Linked DNA regions of Homo sapiens: region 2 is linked to region 1. Evidence: fine-mapped expression QTL. A gene starts in region 1. The other region holds a variant in brackets. All regions are shown on one strand. Distances are between the middles of the regions.

The links. PIP is the estimated chance that this variant, and not a neighbour inherited with it, causes the effect.
Region 2: its variant is the best candidate, but not a certain one, in a credible set for the expression of TFRC in whole blood (TOPMed, PIP 0.86).

Annotation. Positions count from the first base shown.
Region 1 is chr3:196,080,311-196,084,697 of GRCh38, reverse strand. TFRC (transferrin receptor) reads left to right here and starts at 2,608. Exons shown (of 19, transcript NM_001128148.3): 1 at 2,608-2,655. RefSeq lists silencers at 2,286-2,625, 2,676-2,975 and an enhancer at 3,857-4,356.
Region 2 is chr3:196,106,474-196,110,860 of GRCh38, reverse strand. No RefSeq gene overlaps it. Among named protein-coding and RNA genes, the nearest start is that of TFRC, 27 kb to the right of the region's middle. The variant T/C (reference allele first, on the strand shown) is at 2,473.

The DNA of each region.
Region 1 (4,387 bases):
GCCGAGATGGCGCCACTGCACTCCAGCCTGGGTGACAGAGTAAGACTGTTTAAAAATAAATAAATAAATAGTAAAAGTGTTAATAAGTGGACTTTAATTGCAGTGTCTATTAATACTAATAACAGCATAAAAATAAAAATATAATTGATAGCCTCTTTAGTGTCACGTTTATGGTTTTATTTTAGTGAATATAAATTTTTGAGATTTGAATTTTCATGTCCAAATGGTCCTGGCCTCTAAATGTCTCCTAAACATATTTTTCTTTCTTTTCTTTTCTTTCTTTCTTTCTTTTTTTTTTTTTTTTTTGAGACAGAGTCTTGCTCTGCTGCCCAGGCTGAAGGGCAGTGGTGTGATCTCAGCTCACTGCAGCCACCCCCCTCCCGGGTTCAAACGATTCTCCTGCCTCAGCCTCTGGAGTAGCTGGGACTACAGGTGTGCGCCACCACGCCAGACTAAATTTTGTATTTTTAGTTGTGATGGGGTTTTATCATGCTGGCCAGGCTGGTCTTGAACTCCTGACCTCAGAAGATCCACCTGCCTCAGTCTCCCAAAGTGTTGGGATTACAGGGATTAGCCATCGCATCTGGCCACCTAAACCTATGTCCTCCATGAGGCTATAAGATTTTCACCTGCAAATACCAGCATTGTTTGTTTCTTTTTAAAAGATACTTCAGTCAAGGAAAGGCAGAAAGCCAGGCATGTTAGCTCATGCCTATAATCCCAGCACTTTGGGAGACCGGAGGCAGGAGGATTGTTTGAGCCCAGGAGTTCAAGACTAGTCTGGGCTACATAGCAAACCCTGCGTCAAATTAAAAATAAAAAATAAATAGGCTGGGCATGGTGGCTCATGCCTGTTATCCCAACATTTTAGGAGGCCAAGGTGGGCAGATCACCTGAGGTCAGGAATTCGAGACAAGCCTGGCCAACATGATAAAATCCCGTCACTCCTCAAAATACAAAAATTAGCCTGGCATGGTGGCACACACCTGTAGTCCCAGCTACTTGGGAGGCTGAGGCAGGAGAATCGCTTGAATCCGGAGGCAGAGGTTGCAGTGAGCCCGAGATCATGCCACTGTACTCCAGCCAGGGTGACAGAGCAAGACACTGTCTTAAAAGTAAAAATAATAAAAATAAATAAAATTAATAATTAAAGAAATAAAGAAGGAACACCACAGGGGAGCAGGCCTGGTGTCTGAATGTTAAGGTAGGCCCTCTGTGGATGTGCATCCTTAACCTTTTCCTGATTAGATCATTAAAGGTGCAGCAATGCTCCTGCTCATATGACTTTTTTTTTTTTTTGAGATGGAATCTTGCTCTGTCGCCCAGGTTGGAGTGCAATGGCGCGATCTTGGCTCACTGCAACCTCCGCCTCTTGGGTTCAAGCGATTCTTCTGCCTCAGCCTCCTGAGTAGCTGGGATTACAGGCGCGTGCCACTATGCCTGGCTAATTTTTTTTGAAATTTTTTTAGTAGAGATGGGGTTTCACCATATTGGTCAGGCTGGTCTCGAACTCCAGACCTCGTGATCCGCTCACCTCGGCCTCCCAAAGTGTTAGGATTGCAGGCGTGAGCCACCGCGCCTGGCAACTCATATGACTTTTAAACACTTCTCTTTGGGGAGAGAGATTTTAGAGAATGGGAGTAAAGAGAAAGGCGGTGAGAATCCCAAGTACTTTCTCTATCTTAGAGCAGAAGAAATAAAGGGAAGAGTAAAAGCCCAAGGCCCAGAAACGGATTTGCTTCTTAAAGGGCTGTTCTGTGTCCCTACGGGCCTGAAGGTCAGTTTATGTGCAATGCTTTTTAAGGTATGGGTTGCTTTCTTGCATTGTAGCTACTACCTCCCTGGCCTGCTGGTTACTGACCAGAGGGAGGGAGAGGGTGTGATTGTTTGGAAAGAGTTTAAACAGTGACAAGAATTGAATTTTATTTATTTGTTATTCATTGCACAATCCAATAACAGCGATGGCAATGAAAACGAAAGTTAATCTACAATCCTATCACCCTATTAAGTCACTTGTTTCTATTTTCCCTTTTATTCCCTCATGCATTAAACATTACGCAAAGCACTCCGCTAGTCTTGGTTAAAGTGCAGCTTGTATACATTCTGAATAAAAATTTGCATTTTGCTTTTCTTTTCCTTTTTGTATTTCTGAGGCTGCAAAATACATCTTCACAAGAGTGGCTTTAATAGTTACCTAACATTCCATCCTGCACGTACATTTCAAGGCACTGCCGCAGTGCAATATCCAACATTTAAGCGTCAACGCCAACAGATTGGACCTAGCACTGCAGGGACTGGAGGTTGGTCAAGGTCAGGCGGAGGCTGCCAGGCTACCAGGGTGGAGGAAGGCGCCGAGGCAGAGGCCAGTGCGCCCATCGCGCGGCTCCTCGGGGCACCTGCTGCCTTGGCGCCTTTTCCCTTGGCCTTCGCCTCGCCCGCAGCGCCCTCCGCATAGGGCCCCGCCCGCTGCGCGCGCATCCCCGCCCCCCGGGCGATCTGTCAGAGCACCTCGCGAGCGTACGTGCCTCAGGAAGTGACGCACAGCCCCCCTGGGGGCCGGGGGCGGGGCCAGGCTATAAACCGCCGGTTAGGGGCCGCCATCCCCTCAGAGCGTCGGGATATCGGGTGGCGGCTCGGGACGGAGGACGCGCTAGTGTGAGTGCGGGCTTCTAGAACTACACCGACCCTCGTGTCCTCCCTTCATCCTGCGGGGCTGGCTGGAGCGGCCGCTCCGGTGCTGTCCAGCAGCCATAGGGAGCCGCACGGGGAGCGGGAAAGCGGTCGCGGCCCCAGGCGGGGCGGCCGGGATGGAGCGGGGCCGCGAGCCTGTGGGGAAGGGGCTGTGGCGGCGCCTCGAGCGGCTGCAGGTACACGGGGTCGGCGGCTGTGCGCAGAGGCGTCCCTGCGCCTCTCGTCCCTTCGCCTCTCGTCCCTTCCCTTCTCTCTGCCTTCTTGCCCGCCTCCTCGGTCACAGAGCGACGAATGACGAGACCAGGTGTACCCCCACTGTCGCTCTCAGCCCCGGGGACTTCGGGTCCTCGCCCTTGAAGGCCGCAGGCCCTAGTGCGCCGGCTCCGGGCTGCGGGTCCGGGAGCGCGGGCGCAGCCAAGGTGCAGCTGCGCGGCGTGCGGCGCCGGGGGAACACGTGGCTGCTCCAGGAAGTCGCCCCAGGGAACGGCTGGGATTCGTGGGTGACCTTGGGCTCCTAAACCTTCGGTTCCCCGGGCTCCGGGCGGGCCCCGTTCTCACTGCGGAAAGGGACAAAGCTGTCCCCGATTCGGTTACTAGCGTGTTACAGGCATTAATTAGATACGGGTTTCTGTAAACTTACCCTTCGGCTCTGGTACAACCTGATCTTGCCATGCTCTGCCTGTTCGCCTTGTGTGTGGATTCTGTTTTCTCAAGGCAGAATCCGACTGAACGCCGCAGGTGTTCACATTAAGAATATTGCTAGCAGTTCTCACTACAAGACGGGAGCCATAGGAGTGACTTATTTGTGAAAGATACTTGGAGATTAGCGGTGTGGTCAGAGGGCTGTGCTGGATTGATGGGCGCCGGAGAGGCCGATTGTGTCACATTCTGCTGGACAGTTCTTTTAAGGTTGGGAGGGTGGGTAAGAAAATACATTCTGATTCGGCTCTTTTCGGATAACGCTTTCCCTCTGCTTACTGCTTGTAGAGACCTCACTTACCCGGGGGACTGGATTCTGCAGCTTTTTCCATTTTCTTCCCCGTTGATAAGAGGATTAAAGTAGGAAATTGTATTTGGCTACCCCATGCTTATATGCTAAGCTTACTGTGAAAATTAAGGTTAGGCTGTCTAGAGTACTTGTGGACCCTGCTGGTTCCCCCCGCCCCCCGGCCCTGAATTTTGGGTTACAATATGCTTCTCAAGAAAACTCAGAGTTAAGATAATTTTTGTCATCGATTTTGCAAGGTTATATATAGCATAGCATCCTTCAATTTCCTTTGGATGTTCTTATCAAGTAATGGTGGCTGTAAACCTAGCCTGTGTTGAAGATTGTTAGATAGACAGCAGTTTGGCTAACTCCGCCCTAAGGCGAGGCAGTTACTTGCCTCTGATAATGTATTTAAATGTCATGGAGCAAGATTCCCAGCTAAACCTGAATCGATCACAATGCTAGTTAAAAATGACCCTCGGCTGGGCGCATTGGCTCCCGCCTGTAATCCCAGCACTTTGGGAGGCCAAGGCAGGCGGATCACCTAAGGTCAGGAGTTCGAGTCCAGTCTGACTAACATGGTGAAATCCTGTCTCTACTAAAAACACAAAAATTAGCCGGGCATGGTGGCTCACGTCTGTAATTCCAGCACTTTGGGAGGCCGAGGCAGGTGGATCACTTGTGGTGAGGAGTTCGAGACTAGCCTGG
Region 2 (4,387 bases), 26 kb before region 1:
GTGAAGATTGTGCCATTGCACTCTAGCCTGGGCAGTAAGAGCAAAACCTCGTGCCCCCCCCGCCCCCCGCCCAAAAAGAAAGAAAAAAAATGCCCTCAGGATTAATACCTGTGAGGAGGCAGGGCTGCAGGATTAGGGGACGTCGGCCTGGAGCTCAGGAAACAAAGGCCTCAGCAAATCTCTCAATAGGAGTGACTCTCTGGAGCTGGGATGGCCCTTGTCAGGAATGCAGCTGTCCCTAGGGGGAGCATGACGTTGGGTGACGCAGCTCTCTTTAGCCTCAGGTGATCCCGGACAGGGACTTCCTTTATCCGGATGTGGTGGCTCGTGCTCATAATCCCAACACTTTGGGAGGCCGAGGCGGGAGGACTGCTTGAGCCCAGGAATTTAAGACCAGCCTGGGCAACAGCCAGACTGCATCTCAAACAAAAAAACAAACAAGAAACCCATAATTGTTATACCAGCTACCATTTACTGAGCATGCTATAGGTTGTGTATTGGCTAATTATTTTACATAGATTGTCTTAATCCTCAGAACAACCCCGTGAAGTAGGTATTGTTTTATGGATAAGAAAATAGGCTCTACGTGGCAGGTGCGGTGGCTCACGCCTGTGATCCCAGCACTCGGGGAGGCCGAGGCGGGTGGATCACAAGGTCAGGAGACCGAGGCCATCCTGGCTAACATGGTGAAACCCCGTCTCTACTAAAAAATACAAAAAAGTAGCCAGGCATGGTGGCGGGTGCCTGTAGTCCCAGCTACCCAGGAGGCTGAGGCAGGAGAATGGTGTGAACCCAGGAGGCAGAGCTTGCAGTGAGCCCAGATCACGCCACTGCACTCCAGCCTGGGCAACAGAGCAAGATTCTGTCTCAAAAAAAAAAGTTATTACAAATTGTGTCAAAAATAAGATGACCATTAATCAGGAGAAGCCAGCCTTTTCTTTTTTTTTTCTTTTTTTGAGACGGAGTCTTGCCCTGTCGCCCAGGCTGGAGTGCCGTGGCACGATCTTGGCTCACTGCAAACTCCGCCTCCCGGGTTCACGCCATTCTCCTGCCTCAGCCTCCCGAGTAGCTGGGACTACAGGCACTCGCCACCATGCCCAGCTTTTTTTTTTTTTTTTTTTTTTTTTTGTATTTTTAGTAGAGACGGGGTTTCATCATGTTAGCCAGGATGGTCTCGATCTCCTGACCTCATGATCCACCCGCCTCGGCCTCCCAGAGTGCTAGGATTACAGGCGAGAGCCACTGCACCCAGCCGAAGCCAGCCTTTTCTTGCACTGAAACTCTAGGCAAGTTCTCAGGATCACTAGCTTCCAATAATAGCTCCTACAGTAAGTGCAATATTGAGTTTCATGTGGGTTTTCGTGATAACATTTCTCAATTAAGGCAGATTGCATGATGCTAAAGAAGAATTTAGGCCAGGCACAGTGGCTTACACTTGTAATCCCAGCACTTTGGGAGGCCAAGGTGGGCGGATCACTTGAGGCCAGGAGTTTGAGACCAGCCTGGCCAACATGGAGAAACCCCATCTCTACTAAAAATACAAAAATTAGGCTGGGCGCGGTGGCTCATGCCTGTAATCCCAGCACTTTGGGAGGCTGAGGCATGTGGATCACGAGGTCAGGAGTTTGAGACCAGCTTGGCCAACATAGTGAAACCCCGTCTCTACTAAAAATACAAAAAATTAGCAGGTGGTGGCAGGTGCCTGTAATCCCAGCTACTTGGGAGGCTGAGGCAGGAGAATTGCTTGAAGCTGGGAGACAGAGGTTGCAGTGAGCCGAGATCGCACAACTGCGCTCCAGCCTGGGTGATGGTGTGAGACTCTGTCTCAAAAAAAAAAGAAGAAAAAATACCCCCAAAATTAGCTGGGTGTGGTGACACATGCCTGTAGTCCCTGCTACTTGGGAGGCTGAGGCATGAGAATTGTTTGAGCCTGGGAAGCAGAGGTTGCAGTAAGCCAGGATCACGCCACTGCACTCCAGCCTAGGTGACAGAGCAAGACTGTGTCTCAAAGAAAAAATAAAAAGAAGAATTTCATGAAGCCTTGAGAAGCCAACTGTGTGGTCCCAGGATAAGGGTCTGTGTTCTCGTTCTCACTGTTGTTCGGTTGGCACTCAGCAGTGCTGATGAGGGCTCCCGAGTGGGACTGCTGTGGGTTCTCATGGCAGTTCTGTGTCTGGGCTGTCCAGGATCTTGGGCTTAGACACATTGCCACGTGGAAGCTGTGGGGTGTGCGTGTGTGTGCACGTGCGTCCACACGCAAGAGCGCATGTGCGTGGTGGGGCAAAGGGTGATTCAGTGGTTGGGAAACCTGGGTTCACCTGTCCTGCCCAAGCCTCAGGCTGCAGCTCCCTCTGCTCCCAGCCTCGGGAGGGGCCTTCTCTTATCTCCAGCATGCAGCTCCAGGGCACTGCTTACAAATGCGAATGCCGTTCCCTCACCCTCCACTATCTCCCTTCCCCTAGCTCTCCCTCC[T/C]GGGAAGAAGGGGGCCTCCTACTGAGGAGGGTAGGAAAGCTTGATCCTAGCTCCATGACTGAGACCTGGTTTGACCCTGGGGGAACCAAGAGCTCCAGGGGGGCTGTGGCCCTGTGAGGCTGCCAGAGTTGCTGAGGATCTGCCAGCTGACCCTCCTCCCCTCAGCCTGAAACCTGAGCCTCACCCAACACCTGCCAGCCCTCTAGGCTGCGCCTTTCACCCAGCACAGGTGTGTCCCATTGTATGTGTTCGGTAGGAGTGAGCTGTCCATGGGAATCTAGTCTCTGTGCATTCCTTGGCTCATGGCAAATAAGAATTCCTTAAAAAATGTTAAAAAGATGACAGGCGCGGTGGCTCACTCCTGTAATCCCAGCACTTTGGGAGGCCGAGGCGGGCGGATCAAGAGGTCAGGAGATCGAGACCATCCTGGCTAACACAGCGAAACCCCGTCTCTACTAAAAATACAAAAAATTAGCCGGGCGTGGCAGCGGGCGCCTGTAATCCCAGCTACTTGGGAGGCTGAGGCAGGAGAATGGCGTGAACCTAGGAGGTGGAGCTTGCAGTGAGCCGAGATCGCGCCGCTGCACTCCAGCCTGGGCGACAGAGCGAGACTCCATCTCAAATAAAAAAAAAAGTTAAAAAGAACCCAGTATCTGTATCACGTTCAACATAAGAGAAAGATGAGACTCTTATTATAGAAGAGTAGGCCAGGTGCAGTGTCTCACACCTGTAATCCTAGCACTTTGGGAGGCCGAAGCAGGAGGATTGCTTGAGCCCAGGAGTTCAAGACCAGCTTGGGGAACACAGGGAGACCACATATCTTTTGTTATTCCAATTTTTAAATTTTTTCTTTTTTACTTAAAGACCAGTGAGATACTAAGGGAGACTGCATTAGGAAGAGACACTGTGTCTGTAAACAACAACTAAAAATTGGCTGGGCATGGTAGGACGTGCCTATGATCCCAGCTACTCAGAAGGCTGAGGTGGGAGGATCACTCGAGCGCAAAAGGTTGGGGCTGCAGTAAGCAACCTCATGCCACTGCACTCCAGCACCAGAGCGAGACCCTGTCTCAAAATAAAATAAAATAAAATAGGCTGGCTGGGTGTGGTGGCTCACCCCTGTAATCCCAGCACTTTGGGAGGCAGAGGTGGGTGGATCACGAGGTCAGGAGTTCAAGACCAGCCTGACCAATATGGTGAAACCTTGTCTTTACTAAACACACACACACACTAGCTGGGAGTGGTGGCGGGCACCTCTAATCCCAGCTACTCTGGAGGCTGAGGCAGGAGAATTGCTTGAACCCGGGATGCGGAGGTTGCAGTGAGCCAAGATCTCACCATTGCACTCCAGCCTGGGTGACAGAGCTAGATTCTGACTCAAATAAATAAATAAATAAAAATAAAAAAGGCTGAGCGTAGCGGCTCGCACCTGTAATCCCAACACTTTGGGAGACTGAGGTGAGAGGATCACTTGAGCCCAGGAGTTGAAGACCAGCCTGGGCAGTATGGCGAGACCCTGTGTACAAAACATAAGAAATGAACCAAATGTGGTGGCACGCACCTATAGTCCCAGCTAATCAGGAGGCTGAGGTGGAAGGATCAGTTGAGCCCAGGAGTTCAAGACCAGCCTGGGCAATATGGTAAGACCCTGTCTACAAAAAACAAAAAATTATCCAGGTGTGGTGTCACTCACCTATAGCCCCAGCTGCTCAGGAGGCTGAGGTGGGAGGATCACTTGAGCCTGGGGGGGTCAAGGCTGCAGTGAGCTGTGATCATGCCACTGCACTCAGCCTGGGTGACAGAGTGAGATCCTGTCTCAAAAATAGTAATAATATAATAAAATACAAAATATAGAATAGTAATGGGTAGAATACAGTAGAAAGAGAAAGCCAGGGTTACATTTCAAACAAATAAG